Linked DNA regions of Homo sapiens: region 1 is linked to region 2. Evidence: fine-mapped expression QTL. A gene starts in region 2. The other region holds a variant in brackets. All regions are shown on one strand. Distances are from middle to middle.

Evidence for each region.
Region 1: its variant is fine-mapped to the expression of PCSK6 in whole blood (TOPMed, PIP above 0.99).

Annotation. Positions count from the first base shown.
Region 1 is chr15:101,308,945-101,313,324 of GRCh38, forward strand. The region is part of intron 20 of PCSK6 (proprotein convertase subtilisin/kexin type 6); the gene reads right to left. It overlaps LOC100507472 (a long non-coding RNA gene), which reads right to left and starts at 360. Exons shown (of 1, transcript NR_045387.1): 1 at 1-360. The variant G/T (reference allele first, on the strand shown) is at 2,539.
Region 2 is chr15:101,487,180-101,491,559 of GRCh38, forward strand. PCSK6 (proprotein convertase subtilisin/kexin type 6) reads right to left here and starts at 2,528. Exons shown (of 22, transcript NM_002570.5): 1 at 2,195-2,528. The coding sequence starts at 2,491. LOC124903566 reads right to left here and starts at 1,974. Exons shown (of 2, transcript XM_047433427.1): 1 at 1-1,974. LOC107987228 (a long non-coding RNA gene) reads left to right here and starts at 2,588. Exons shown (of 2, transcript XR_001751730.2): 1 at 2,588-3,145; 2 at 3,209-4,380.

The DNA of each region.
Region 1 (4,380 bases), 180 kb before region 2:
GAGGGCTGCTTCATCAGTGAAGAACTGTGGTGAGGAGCGCGCTGCGGTGGACAGCCAGGAGGTTACGGCTTGCTTGCTTCTTCAAATACAACCTCACCCAGCTCAGCAGGATGGCAGGGGCCTCGGTTTTCCATTGCTCTAACCAGGTTGCCACACACTCAGCAGCTGAAAATAACACCCACTCAGCGGCTCCCCGCTATGCAGGCAGAAGTCCAGGCAGGTGCAGCTGGGCTCTCCACCTAGGGTCTCACGAGGTTCAGGGCAAGGTGGTGGCCAGGCTGGGCTCTCCTCTGGAGGTCTGGGGAAATAATCCATCACCATGCTGCTCAGGGAGATGGGTGATGCTCCCGTCCCCGTTAGGCCAGTGCAGACGGCTCTCCCTGGGAGACCCTGTGTAGCTCCTGCTTTCCGTCAGGATTACCGTGCCCAGCAGCGGGTCCTCGTGGGCAGCACCAGCTTTGGGCAGGGTGGCTTTTAAGATGCTTCTGGTTCTGCAACCATCTATGGTACCTACTTTTCCCCCAAACACCATGGCCGCTTTGCCCTGCCACATTCTGGAAGGACAGGGATGCCGGATGCAGCCCTCTGTCCCTGCTCCCTTGCAGAGGCCACTCCCATCAGCCTCCTGCCTGTTCAGGAGTGGGATGCAGAAGACTGACGCTTTCATGCTCCAGCCTGGACGCAGCATGCGCATTGGCAGAAGGCGTGCCCCTTCAAGCTGTGCCCCTGGGAGTCTCTGCCCCCGCTGAGCCTGGGGGCAAGTGGAGGCAGGGCCAGGGCATGAGGAGTTTGCCTCCCCCGCTGGCAAGCACTCCACAGAGGCCTGTTTTTCTTCCAAGTTGTCCAGGCTGGCTCTTGCTGGGTCCTCTCACTAGGTCTTGAGGGTGTCCGGCCCCTCTCTTAGGGAACTTATCGTGCATTGTTCTCAGCGTCGGGCCTCGGCCCCTCTCTTAGGGAACTTATCAGGCATTGTTCTCAGCGTCGGGCCTCGGCTTCCACCTGCAGTTGCCAACCCAGCAGGCCTGCGTCCTGACCTGCATGTTCCAACGCAGCCCGTCTGGCCACATGCTCCCTCGGAGCTGCCTGGCACAGCAGCAGCGGACGGCCACGGCGTCCACCAGCATTCTGGGGCCTGGAGGATGCCTGTGGTTCTCAGCTCAGGCTGTCCAAGTGGGGAGAGACCCCGCAGAACCAATCGGACCAAGGCCTTGCTTCCTTTGGGAGGCGTCCACACTGACGCTCTTCCTGGGGGGTGCTTCTCCAAGACCCGGTGTGTCAGCCCCAGCACTGTCAGCCTCTGCAGGGCCGAAAGCTGCCCCTCACCTGGGAACAAGTACCCAGGAAACTCCTGTCCTCCACTGCCCAAAGAGAGGTTTGCGGTGGGGCTGCCCGCCTGCTGCCTCCTGAGGGGCAAAGAGAGGTTTGCGGTGGGGCTGCCTGCAGGGGTCCAGTTGCACAGCTGTGGGCATGATCAGCATGCCCTGAAATCCAGGGCATTTGACAAATGAAAGTGATTATCACTGTTTAATTCCAAGTTCTCCCTGGATTGCTATATTTAATTATCTGAGAACCAGCTGACTGGTTACCATGAAGGGTTTAACTTCAGACAACTGTGCCCAGGGCCCCGTGCAGGACTCAGCAAGGCTGCACCTTGCAAGCGGGTGGCAAGTTTCCTCCATTACAGCAACGCAGTAGAAGGGGCTGATGCTTGCCGAGATACGTAACCGCCACCAGGTCCCTCTGCTGTGGGTCAGACAAGTGCAAGGGCTTGGTGGTCCCTCATGGGCTCACTGTAGGGCTTTGTTTCTAGGGGAATAGGTTACAACCCACAGTGGTTCTTACACACAGCCTGGGAGGCAGACCCCACTGTGTGGTGAATCGGTACCCAGCTGGCAGCCAGCCATGGGCACCCCTCCCCTGCTCTGACACAAGCCTTTGAGGGCTCCCTCATTTTCAGTCTTTTTCAGACGGAAGCCCCCCGATATGGTTTGAACATTTGTCCCCTCCAAGTGTCATGATGAGATGTGATCCCCAGTGTTGGAGGTGGGGCCTGGTGGGAGGTGTTTGGATCATGGGGTGGATCCCTCATAAATGGCCTCACACCATCCCCTTGGTGATGAGTGAGTTCATGTGAGAGCTGCTTGTTTAAAGGTGTGTGGCAACTCCTGACTTTTTTTTTTCTTTTGAGATGGAGTCTTGCTCTGTCGCTCATGCTGGAGTGCATGGTGCGATCATAGCTCACTGCAACCTCCGCCTCCTTGGTTCAAGCGATTCTCCTGCCTCAGCCTCCTGTAAGACTGGGATTACAGGCACACACTACCACGTCCAACTAATTTTTGCATTTTTTTTTTTTTTTTTTTTTAGTAGAGAAGGGGTTTTGCCATGTTGGCCAGGCTGGTCTTGAACTCCTGGCCTCAGGTGATCCGCCCACCTTGGCCTCCCAAAGTGCTGGGATTACAGGCGTGAGCCACCGTGCCCGGCCTCCTTCCCTCTCTTGCTCCTGCTATTGCCATGTGATGTGCTGCCCTTGCTTCACCT[G/T]CCATCAGGAGTGAAGACGCTGGGCAGATGCTGGCGCCATGTTTCCTATGAAGCCTACAGAACTGTGAGCCAATTCAACCTCTTTTCTTTATAAATCACCCAACCTCAGGTATTTCTTTTTAGCACTGTGAAAGCAGGCTAACGCCTGGTACTTCCCTCACAGCTCACCCCATCGTCACCCCTCACAGCCCACCCCATCGTCACCCCTCACAGCCCACCCCATCGTCACCCCTCACAGCCCACCCCATCGTCACCCCTCACAGCCCACCCCATCGTCACCCCTCACAGCCCACCCCATCGTCACCCCTCACAGCCCACCCCATCGTCACCCCTCACAGCCCACCCCATGGTCACCCCTCACAGCCCACCCCATCGTCACCCCTCACAGCCCACCCCATCGTCACCCCTCACAGCCCACCCCATCGTCACCCCTCACAGCCCACCCCATCGTCACACCCTCACAGCCCACCCCATCGTCACACCCTCACAGCCCACCCCATCGTCACCCCTCACAGCCCACCCCATCGTCACCCCTCACAGCCCACCCCATCGTCACCCCTCACAGCCCACCCCATCGTCACCCCTCACAGCCCACCCCATCGTCACACCCTCACAGCCCACCCCATCGTCACCCCTCACAGCCCACCCCATCGTCACCCCTCACAGCCCACCCCATCGTCACCCCTCACAGCTCACCCCATCGTCACACCCTCACAGGTCCCTTCAAACTCCTCAATGTTGCTCCCACCCTGAATAAGACAGGTTGCCCTGCCCTGTTCTGGGTCCTGAGTTCATGATCTCCCAACATAGGGCAATATTCAGCCAGAAAAGAGGAGACCAGAGCAAACAGCTCCTCCTTTAACAGCTCATGTCCAACAACAGAAGGGTCCAGGGCCATCAAATAAGAATGGTGACTCTGTGGAGGGACACATGGGAGGAAGCACAAGAGGAGGATATGGAGGGTGAAAATAGATGTGCGTGGACTGTGCAGAGAACAGCTTTAGAATGAGGAAATTGTCAGGATCTTTTTAATTTCTCTAAGTATCTAACTAAAAAAAATATTTTAGGCCAGGTGTGGTGGCTCACACCCGTAATCCCAGCACTTTGGGAGGCTGAGGTGGGTGGATCACTTGAGGCCAGGAGTTCGAGACCAGCCTGGCCAACGTGGTGAAACCCGGTCTCTATTAAAAATACAAACAATTAGTGGGGAGTGGTGGCGGGTGCCTGTAGTCCCAGCTACTCGGCAGGTTGAGGCAGGAGAATGGTGTGAATCTGGGAGGCGGAGCTTGCAATGAGCCGAGATCGCCCACTGCGCTCCAGCCTGGGCGACAGGCGAGACTCCATCTCAAAAAAAACGAAAACAAAAACAAAAATTAGCTGGGCATTGTGGTGCACGCCTGTAGTCCCAGCTACTCGGGAGGCTGAGGCATGAGAGTTGCTTGAATCCCAGAGGCAGAGGTTGCAGTGAGCTGAGGTCACACCAGTGCACTCCAGCCTGGGCGACAGAGTGAGAGTGTGTCTCCAAAAAAATTTTTTTTTAACCCAAAACATGGTTTCTCTGATTATCGACAGTGCAAAGGATGCATGCTGAGCGCGACATGGGCAGGGACGTCCCGCGTAGTCCACCAATGGGGTGTGAGCACCTTGCTATTCTGCTTCCCATCTTATCCCGCTGCTGCACGGTGTCTGCCCACAGCAGGGACCCAACAAATATGCATCCAGTGAACAAAGGGACGAAGGCCCCTCAGCAGCTCTGTAAATGGGCTCCTGTCCACAGTGGGGTGATGCAACATGCCCTCCCCGGCCCCTGGGGAAGATGCTGCCAGACTCTGCCCTCCAGGC
Region 2 (4,380 bases):
AAGAGTAATAGGCCCTCCGTGAGTAATCACACACAAGCCTCTGAGACAGCTCCTATCCCCAACCAGCTAATCTCTGTTAGTGAATGTCACCGCAGTGCCACTGCCAGCACCATGCCTGAGTGACCGGGCTGCGTGGCATTCATGCTGGCTGCACTAGACAGAGCTGGGGAGACCCCGATTAACTCCCCAGAATATCCTGGGTACGGAGTGTGCATCGGGGCGAATCTTCTCTCCCATCCGCAAAACCAGGAGAGCAGACTGCACTAAGAACTCAGTGAGCCTGACAGAGGTTGTCTCAAAGGGGCGGCATGGCCAAGGGTTAGGCATTTTTATTCCCACAGATAGAAATTTCCGGGGAGAGTTACCTGTGCCTCTCTGCCTCTCTCTTGCAGTGTGAGCTCACAGCTCAATTTCAGCTCCATTCTGCTCATTTAATTTTAGAATCCCAAAACCCAGGCACTTTGTAATTTATCGCGTAGTTTAAGAGTCACTTTTAGCTGAAGACAAATTGCTGGGCCACCTGGGCACAGCAGCGAAGTGTGGCAGGAGCCAGGGGCACTACGCAAACATGAGGAACACCTTCTTCAGCCTGGACAATCAGCCAGGGAGAGTCAAGAACTACAGAGACAAACGAAGTCAGTGCTACCCGACGGCAAAATCTGAAATCACAGGATGTTTGGAGGGCCTTGAGTGGTTAAAAAAACTAAATATCTATATGGATATACATGTGCGTATATGTATGTGTGTATATGTGTATATATGTAACATTTTATATATATATATGCATATATTTAAAAGGTCTCCAAAGATGTGCTAGCATTCTTTCAGTAAACTCGAACCTGCCTTGTGAAGATTCCTTCATTCGAATGGTGGAATCCACCCCTCCAGCCACACACCTAATAGTACATCAACGTGGGGCTTGGGATGCAGAACTAATGTCATTTCTATCAATCAGGGACGCCACCACACCTTGCTGGCTTCTGCCACGGATAACGATGAAACTACATTTAACACTGCCTGGCACTAAGGTTTAGAGTTATGAGTCGGTGCTTCCCTGTCACTTCACTTAACCCTCTGAGTGTGTAGTTTGTAGATTTGTTAACTGCACTGAGAGGTCCCCTGGTGTGACCTCAAAATAACGGCCTCTCCAGGAGCCATAAACATGGATCAACCCCAACTCACCGCCCCTCAGCCCGGTAGCTGGTTGAGAGAGGAAAAAGGGACCCGCCGGGAGGTCCTTTGAGGGTAATGCCGCCTTTGTGCCCAGGGCGTGGCCTGCTTGCTCACTGACAGAAGAGGGGACAGCCGAGGGCTGCGGGGCTGGGAGGGCCCCGTGGGGGCCGGTGAGGGTCAGGCCCCGGTCCAGGCTCTGTGGCAACGCAGCATTAGATCTTTCCGACAACCCAGCGGTGTAGACATTGCCACTGACTGCAAAGGAGCTTGTCAGGGGAGCGACTTGCCAAAGGTCACACCGCTCGGCCATCAGAACCGCGGCAGAAGCCCCCACACAAAGCGCCCTCCCTCCGCTCCTGGAGAGGTTTTAAACCCAGGACCCCCGGCCCTGCGCTGTCCCAAGGCCTCTCCGACGGCGGCCGGGCTCCAGGGTGCAGGCTCCCGGCCATCTACCCCCGGGAGCCGCGGACACCGAGGGAGCGCGAGTCCCCGAGACGCCGGGCCACGCTCATGTCACCCAAGCAGCGGCCGCGGCCGCCTTGGCGCGCGCACCGGGTCCGGAGCTCGCGCCGCCCGTCGAGGGCAGAGGGGCCGCTCCCCCGCGGGGGAGAGCCGGGTGGGCGCCCAGGACCCAGCGGCGGACGGCGCGCGACGCCTGAGGCAGCCCAGACTCCCCCGGAGCCCGGCAGGTGTCCGCGCCGCCCCGGCTTCTGAGGCCACACTTCCGAGCGCGGGGTTGGGCGGCACTGCCGGGGGACTTGCGGTCGGCGCGCCGGACCTGCGTGGGCGCCCACGCGGGACCCCAGTCCCCCCCACCCCGCCGAGTGTCCCGCGCGCGCCCCCCCGGGCGACACCCCCCCCCGCAGGGCGCCCCGGCCGCCCGCCGTCCCCAAGCGGTCCCGGAGCCTTCCCACGCGCGCGCGGGGCCGGGGCCGGGCGGACAGGACTGCGGAGGCGCCCCCCTCGCGCGCGCCGGAGGCCGCCGGGAAAGTTTTGGGCGCGCGGGGCCGGCCGCACTCACCTGGCCCAAGTTGAGGTACCCGTGCGCCGCCGCCACGCGGTCCGCCTCGGCCGGGCCGCCCAGCACTTGCACCGCCCAGTGGTTGGTGTAGACGGGGCGCGGCGGGGGCGCGGAGCAGGCGGCAGGCAGCGCCAGCAGCAGCAGCCAGCGCCAGGGACGCGGCGCGAGCGGCCGGAACCCGGGCCCGCCGGCGCCCCCCGCGCCCCCCGCGCCCCCCGCGCCCGCGGCGGTGTCGGTGGCGGCGGCGGCCCGGGGCGGCGGCCGGGGCCCGGGCGCAGGCGGCGCGCGCGGAGGCATAGCGGCGACAGGCTCGCGCGGCGCCCGAGCTGCGAGTGCGCCGGGGGGTGGAGTGCCGCCTTTTAAAGCCGCTCCGCGCCGGGGAAGCGCCGCCGCCGCCGCCACCGCCGCCGCCAACACCGCCGCGGGCGGGAGCCGGGGAGGAGGAGGCGGCCGCGGCGCGTTCCCGCCCCCGGGCCCGCGCTCCTGCGACCGGGCTCCGGGGCCGAGAGCCGTCCGGGAGGCCCGAAACGCCCCCCACCGGGGGAACTTCCCCGCCGACTTCTGGGGCTCTCGGGACGCGGTGCCGCCCCAGAGGCGTCCTCGGCCCGCGAGTTCTGCTGGGAGCGGGGAGGCCCCGGCGTCTCAGGTGAGTCCCCGGTTCCCTAGACCGGCCGGACACCCGAAGGCCGCACTCACCTGGCGGGGGCCTCAGACGCCTGGCGGCCTCGCCCGCCTCCCTAGACGGAGGGCTCGCCCGTGTGCGGGGTCCCAGGGAGAAGAAGCTGCGGGGAAGACAGTGGGTCGCCCGGGACCAAGCCTGGCTGAAGGGACACATTGAGCGGGGCAAAGGCATGTGGCGCATCAGCCGGGCTCACGAGCGTGTACCCGAGAAACCACCGCACGGAGCCCATGGCGGAGGCCGCGGCCCATGCTGGGAGGCAGGCCGTGCAGGTGAACCCCCAGGCCGCGCAGGTGAACCCCCAGGCCGCGCAGGTGAACCCCCAGGCCGTGCAGGTGAACCCCCAGGCCGCGCAGGTGAACCCCCAGGCCGTGCAGGTGAACCCCCAGGCCGTCCGCTTAGCCTCGCTGCGATCTTGGGCAAATGACTGTGGTGGCTGAGGGCAGGCGCCCCACCTGCAAAATGCGGGGAACAGTGGCATCTACCCCGTCGGGCTGATTTGAGGATGAGGTCAGCTTTTGCTGTACAATAAGCTGTCCGTAAACGTTCGTTTTTATGAGCCCAGGGCCTGCCGTGTGGTAGGTGTTCACTAGACGATGTACACTCTTAAAAGCACCCACTGAGCTGGGACCAGCAGTAGAAAGTCAGCTGAATCATCCTCACCCCTGCTTCCTGGAGCAGCCTGGTATCCAGTGGATAATGATTTGAAGCACCCTGGAGATGGATGGAAATGTTCACACCATAATCAAGGAATTATGAAGGGTAAGGATCGCTGCTGGATCTCTTCTGTCATCCCTCCCAGGACCCATTGGTCCTACTGGCCCACTTCCAGAAAGCAAGCCATCAACCTGCTTAATATAGGAAGTAAAACAAAAAGGTCGAGAAGGCCTTGAGGTGGGAAGGAAGCTGCTTCTCTGATGGTCAGTTCCAGGAGCGGTCTCTTGTTGAGCGTGCAGGATTCACTTGGAGTCTGTGGCTTGGCAGCTGGAGGTGAGAGGCTGGGGCGAGAGGGGATGGGCTGAGGACAGGATCTGCATAGATGGTTTCCGAGGTCCTTTCCAGCCTCGCTCTCAGGAGCCCTTTGGTTTTGTAACCCACGTGATTCATCATTTCTTCAGGTGTGAGTCACCCCTAATGGAGGTGGGAGAACAGGAGGCGTGGTGGGAGGCCCCATCCCAACAGGCCACATCCATGTTCACAAGGGCTCCTGCCAAGGGCCCATCTTGGAACCTGGAGATCAACGTCCCACATGGCCTTCGCTTTGCTACACTAGATGTAACTTCACCTCCCTGCGTTCCCCTGGCAAGTGGGGTCAGCTGCTTGGGCCGTCACTCCAGGCCTGCCCACACTGCAGAAGACAGCCACCGTGTGTCCCTCCTACAGATGGACTGGATGCTCACCAGCCCCTGCCAGTGGAGAGACATGAGGCCCTCATGCAAACTGGCAGCCCTAGAGGAGAACCGGCCATACTTGTTGGACAGAAACAGTACCCAGAACTCTCAGTCTG